Homo sapiens: one gene and its partner. The protein of the gene in region 2 purifies or fractionates together with the protein of the main gene of each other region. This does not show direct contact. Each region holds a gene or a part of one and is shown on either strand. Other genes may lie near its edges.

Region 1 (2,813 bases), on a different chromosome or scaffold from region 2:
AGATTGACAGTTAAAGCTTTGTTGTGCTGTTCTTCCCTCCTGTTGTCTCCCTTAGAATGTACTCTTAGTGGGTAGCAAACTAACTTAATAAATAGTGGCCTCTAGGACTAAGATTTAGTAGCAGGAGATAAGCGAGAGTACAGTCTGTAGACTCTCCCATCCACTGCAATGGCACATCAGTGTACCATCTAATTTGGTAGCCCCTGTGATAAGGGCACAGCCTTCTGGTCTTTCCGTACAATGATGAGTACTTTGAATTGCACTTTATTTTGCTGGAGATGGGAGTTCCTAGCATATTAGCAAATTGATGGCTGGCAGCTGGCCTAGATGGTAACTTCTCTCACATTTACGATTTTAGGATGCTTTTGTTAAAATTTTTTCCCTAAAGTCAGACAAACTATCAAATCTCAAACTTTCTATCAGTCAGTCAGTCTATCTTTCTGGAATTAGTTCAGGCAGTCTGGAAACTTCATGGATGCAGGATTCATTCATTCAGTCAACAAATATTTGTTGAACATCAATAGCAAGCCTTATTCTAGGAGCTGGAAATAGAGACAAAATATACAAACAAACCAAATGATGCCATTATAGCTTCATATACTATTTATTAAGTTATTAATATGAACAGATATGCAACATTACAGATGTCTTTCAAAGCCTGTAATAAAATATAGTCCACTATCCAGCCCAGGAGAAAGACAACAAACAGTATCATTCTTATAGTAAGTGTAGCATACGTACTCACAATAGTTCCCTTATTTGGACATCAAAGGGAACAATCAGTCAAGATTCTTTACCTCCATTAGAATTTAACTTTCTTGGATTATAGCTGTTTTAGAGTCAAAAGTCCAACTTAGATTATCCACAGAGATGTGTAGCATCACATGTTGGAGAGGAAGGAGCTACTGTCACCTCCGTGGCAGCCCTTTCTACTGTCTTGCAGTCCTTCTATATCGAAGCCCATCTTGCCTTTTAGGCCAGTAGTGGTCAAATTTGGGTATGGGGAGAAGGCAGGTGGGTCACAGGGAGGTTTTGATTAATTTACAAAGATTGTGTTTCAAAGCTCTAAAAACCCATTTGGTGGTGGCAGTGGCAGTGAAGAGTACACTATATTTCGCCAAGGGGGTCTTCTCATCTCTTGAGTCTTGGCTTTCTCATATCCTTTAAAATTGCTGCAGTTCTCAGTGGGAAAGTGGAGGTGGCAAACTCTAACAGCGATTGGTATGGGGCCATCTGCAGAATGAACTGGACTGGCTACTATGGCTTTTATAACCTGCTTTCCTTTCTTTAGTCTAGACAAGCTTATTTCTTCATCTTTCCACCTACGTCCTGCTAGTTCTAACATAAGATTTAAAAGGACTATGGAAGATAAAACTTCTCACTTTCTAGCTGAATGATGAAAAACAGCAAAAAAAAAAAAAAAAAAAAAAATTCCATTCTTCAATGAACTATACTCAATTTCCTCAGTTGAAAACAAACAAGCGCCAAATGAATTTTAAAGACAAGTGCTGGATAATGCTGATTAACTGGTAGAAGTAGTTCCTGAGTGAAACAGCGTATGTATCAGAATCTAAAATACAAGCAAAACCCGAAATGCTCTGTAATAGGGATTGTAATAGTGATTCTTCAACCCCTTAGTTTCACACTGAAAACTACAAATGTTTTTCAATATCAGGCTATTGATAATAGTCAATTAAATATGGAATCAGAAACCTCAGAAAGTCTTGCCAAGTTTGTGGCAGTTTCAATAGTCTAAAAAGGAAAAAGGAGAAACCAGAAGTTAAAGAGTAAGAGCATTGGAATTTTATTTAACTCTAGGTACCATGGATTTGACATCAGTAGGAAAGACTAATGAATAAGCAGCCATACAACTTTTTTGGTCACTGTGCTTCCCAAGCACCAAAAAATGGAGCTATTTTTCCAATTCAGTTTCATCTTTAATAAGCTAGACAGATCCTGCTGCATTCTTTGTTTCTAGTTTACCAGTACATCATTATGTAGTTTACTGCATGTGTGGAGCAAGTCATTATGTAGTACCAAGTTTACATCATCATAGGACTACAACATGCACATTCTACTTAATGTAGCTCAAGCAACAGGAATACAAGAGAACGGTTATGGGTGGAGACTTGCCTTTGACAAAGTCATGATCACACTAACTATAGGTTTAGAAATCTTATTAGGGAGGTACCTACAGCGGTTCTTCAATTGGTATTAGAACATCACATGCATGCACAAGTGGTATGGTAGAGAATGAAGCGGAAGAAGCCGCTGGATGGAGGACAGAGGGGAAATTAGAGATGGGATGATGCCGTGTATCGGGCAGTTCTCAGCTTTCCACAGTAAGTCTCTGCTCTGTGAGAGAGGCCTGCTGGGCAACACTTTTGTTCTCATGACTGCGAAGTTTGGATACGACATCTAGAAAAGCCAAATCCTGTACTTCCTTGTGTAGACATTCTGGAAGACAAAAAAATAACAGATATGATTCTGTTAGGTTGTTCTAAGTCTATCCAAAACATATACCAAAATGTTTATTTTGACAAGACTAAGCTTATAAAACTAGAAACAATTCTGGAAAAAGACATAGCAGTAGCCTAGCAATGTCTTTCTTAGAAATGTATTATAATTTAAAAAAATCATAAAAACTTTACTTTTTTTTAAATTAAAGGAAAAAATTTTAAAGATGGGGACTTGCTCTGCTGCCCAGGTTTGAGTACAGTGGCATGGTCACAGCTTACTGCAGCCTCAAACTCCTAGCCTCAAGGGATTCATCCTGCTCAGTCTCCCAAGTAGCTGGGATGACAGTCATGAGC
Region 2 (3,825 bases):
CAGGGGCACAAAGGCCTTCCCAAGAGAGTCTCACCTGTAAAGTGAGGTCCTGAAATGGTTTTATGAGAGCAGATTTTCTTTATCCTCCTTTCCTCCCTCCAGGAACTTCTTTCCTCCTTTTCTCTTCCCTTGTTCCCGCCACCTTCCCTTGCCTGGCTGGCCTCATCCTTCACTGCTACAAGTGCCAACTAACTCAAATGGTAGGCAGACTTGCATGGCTTGACCTGAGTGCATGATGGAAGACAGAGACCAAATGGAAGAATGAGGCCCTTGTCCCTCTCTGAAGAGCAATATTCTGGGTGGCCCTTGACTGCAAAAAGAAGTTTTCTTCTTCACATGCCATGTTCCTGCCAGCCCTCTGTCCCATATGAGTGCTTCCCAGAGTCCTGGAGAAGGAAAGTGCCAAGAACAAAGAGGTTCCAAGCCAGCTCAGCCTCATAGTTTTGCTTCACAGCAGACAGCACTCATCTCCAAGTGGATAGGGAGGTAGTTCAACCCCAACAAGAAGGGGAAAGACATGCCGCCTTCCTTCACTGGTTGTCCCCTTGTCACCTAGAAGGCTGGTTCCCAAGGCCTCTGAAAAGGGGTATTTCTATCACAAGAGATTCTGGGCTCTGCCTACAAGTTGCTGGTTTGGGCCTCTATTCAGTCAGACCCCAGCTCTGTGTCTGAATTTACTGGCATACCCATACAATAACCCAAAGAGTTTGGTTCTATGCCTTAACTCTCCCTGCTCATTTCGCACAGGTGACTAAGGAGCAGGACCTTTGGACAACTCAGCAGGAACACTTAGAGTCTTCATCCTACTTGGCAAACCTAGGGCCAGAGATAATGGTGATACTACCTAGACCATTCAGATGCTGAGATCATAACTGAGCCCACAGTTCTCTGTAAAAAGTCTTGAGTTCTCCTTCACCCAAAAATGTTATAGGAGGCCACGAGAACAAAATACTAATTTCCTGGTTGGGATAAAACGTTTCCACAGGAATCTGGAATAAGCTTGACAAAGTGCCCAAGTCACAAGAGAACAGATGTTTCTTGAGACCAAGGATTTCAGAGGAGTATTATGGTGGAGCGCAGGAGTGGGGTCTATTATAAAATGCCACCACTATATACTCATATTGCACATGGGATACACCCGGGGATGACATATTGGAGCATATATAGAACAGATACGTGCAGGTAGCACCCCCTATTGGTATACTATGTTTGATACCTCAAACTGTTACTTGAGGTCTATGAAACTGTTAACTGGTCAGAAATGGGAAAAGCCATTCCATAATAGCATCCTTTAAGGAGAAGCTTCAGGAGACATTTCTTGTCCGCTAAACCTGGAGGCAAAGCAAAGCAGCTCCTCTTTTTTATATATTAGGAAGTTTTTCTTTGTTGCAGTTCCCACGGATTAAGGTAATTTCTGCAAAACAATGAAGTCAAACCAGTGATGAGAAAGTACAACCAGGAGCACATCAGGCCTTACGTGGAGTTCTTGACAAAACTGTCCTTTGAATAAAAAGTTAAGGTTCACACTAGATGACCTTTTATAACCAGCCTAAAGCAAGGCTTTGTCTATGAGCCACATTCATGGAACTGGAAGGAGCTGATGCGTTCCAACATCAGGTCTCAGTGGCTGGACTGAGGAGGTTGGAATCTGTCTTTTTCTCGACTATTTCAGAAGCACTTTGCCACCTCTATTGGAAACAATTTTATTCTGGCAGAGCTGGGGTGGTGGGAGGCAACGTGCAGGACCCTTATGGACGCAGAAGTAGCAGGTTGAGGGAACAGCCGCTGCCACAGGTGGTTTACTTGGTGGGGGTGGTGGAAGGACCAAAGCAGAAGTCACCCCATCAGTGCAAGTCTCTCTAGGGAACTCTGCATCCTTCCTTAGCAAGGTTAGAGTGACTCTAGACGCTAAGGTTTGTGTAGGTTGTCCAGCTAGAAGTCTCTGCACCTCGCCCAACTCTTCAGCTGTACGGAGAGTGAGAGAGAACTGGTCCCAAGACCTTCCCTTAGCAGAGTTCAGGGTCTCTCTGCTGAGCTGCAGCTCCTGTGACTATTACCCTTCAAACACCACCCAGGCAACCCTGTGACTCTCGCCCTCCTCCCCATCCTGCATGGTGCGGCTCTTGCCTCCCAGCAGCCTCTACTTTTCATCCTCATCCCCCTCGCTCATGCTGCTGATAGAGGCTGAGGCTGCTTTGGGTGAGGAAGGGGGTGAGGTTTTGAGTGGAAGCCATGAGAAGGTGGGCGATGGGGAGCGGGAAGGGGACCGGCTCCGGGTTGGGCTGCTCACAGGGCTCTGCTTCGGGGATAAGGCCTGCAGCATCCGGCTGCTCCTCTCCTGGAACATCTGCTTCTAAAGATAAATTGGAGAGAAGGCATCTGTTAACTTTGCAATCTGAGGCAGCAGCAAAACAAAAAGGTAAGGCAGGCAGGAGAGCCACTACCCCAAAACTCCTGAGCCCACAAACCTACACTCATACCACATCCCGTGTTGTCCAAGACTATGTATAGTAAGGAACCGAGTGATATTCAGGGGTAGTGACAGAAGATTACAGTCACCACTGGTTCTTTTTTTCTCTTTTTTTTTTTTTTTGAGACAGAGTCTCGCTCTGTCACCCAAGCTGGAGTGCAGTGGCATGATCTTGGCTCACTGCAACCTCAGCCTCCCAGGTTCAAGCAATTCTCCTGCCTCAGCCTCCCAAGTAGCTGGGATTACAGGTGCCCGCCACCATGCCCGGCTAATTTTGTATTTTTAGTAGAAACGGGGTTTCACCATGTTGGTCAGGCTGGTCTTGAACTCCTGACCTCAGGTGATCCACCCACCTCAGCCTCCTAAAGTGCTGGGATTACAGGCGTGAGCCACCATGCCCAGCTACCACTGGTTCTTAACACTCTTTCCTTCTTCCTTTTTTTTCTTCCATCTACAAAATTTAACTGAGTGTCTCTGACTAGCCAGGCAAGTAGTCATGACCTACGGACTGGAGGGGTGGCAGAAAACAAAACCCCTGACCTCATACCCTCACAGATATGAGGAGGAATCACACAATAAACAAAATATGGTATGTCAGATGGATCTGTGGTCTGTGAGAAAAAGAGGGCGAGAGGATAGCAAGTGGGGCTGGGAGCAGGGCAGCTGCGATTGCAAACAGGGTGCTCGGGGAAGGCCCCACTGAGAAAACGCTTCTTGAGTGAAGAACCTGGAAGAGATAAGGGGAGGGACCAGGTGAATGGAAATCAGAGGGCAGCGCACTCCAGACAGAGCACCCCAAGAAAGGAGCATGGAACGCACACCCAGGAAGCGCAGGCAGGGCACCGCGGCTGCCTTGAGGGCTGATAGATGGGGAGGAGCTGAGGGAGGCGGTTGGGAAGAGGTTGCCAGAGAAGGCACAGAGGGCTGTGCCATGGAGGGCCTTGGCAGCCATTGTGAGAACTCTGCCTTTCAGTCTGAGGGGACCCATGCAACAGGTCCCAGGAGAGGAGGAGGCCATCGTGGCAGTATGGAGCGAGCTGGTGGGGAAGGGAGAGGGGGAGGCACTGCGGGAGATCAGGCCAGAGACATATCAGGCGGCAGTTTCACGTACAGTCTCCTCTGAGAAGAGAAACCTCTGGAGAATTCTGAGCAAAGGATTAACAATCTGCTGCTTGTTTTCAAAAGACCATTCTGACTGCTGTGTTGGGAACAGATGGCAGTGAGGCGGGGGCAGGAACAGGGAGCCCACTTATGAGCCCGTTGCAATAAGAATCCAAGGCCAGGCGCGGTGGCTTATGCCTGCAATCCCAGCACTTTTGAAGGCCAAGTCGGGCAGATCATTTGAGGTCAGGAGA

Evidence for each region.
Region 1: the proteins of PCYT1B (region 2) and RAP1GDS1 purify together in Homo sapiens (co-immunoprecipitation; one large-scale study listed by IntAct). This does not show direct contact.

What each region holds. Positions count from the first base shown.
Region 1 is NC_000004.12:98,441,634-98,444,446, reverse strand, and holds the end of RAP1GDS1 (rap1 GTPase-GDP dissociation stimulator 1), read right to left. Parts: intron 2,458-2,813; coding exon 2,330-2,457; 3' UTR 589-2,329; downstream 1-588. UniProt on the Homo sapiens protein: Acts as a GEF (guanine nucleotide exchange factor) for the Rho family of small GTP-binding proteins (G proteins) that stimulates the dissociation of GDP to enable subsequent binding of GTP.
Region 2 is NC_000023.11:24,560,153-24,563,977, forward strand, and holds part of PCYT1B (choline-phosphate cytidylyltransferase B), read right to left. Parts: intron 2,354-3,825; coding exon 2,141-2,353; 3' UTR 1,966-2,140; coding exon of another isoform or gene 1,933-1,965; 3' UTR 1-1,932.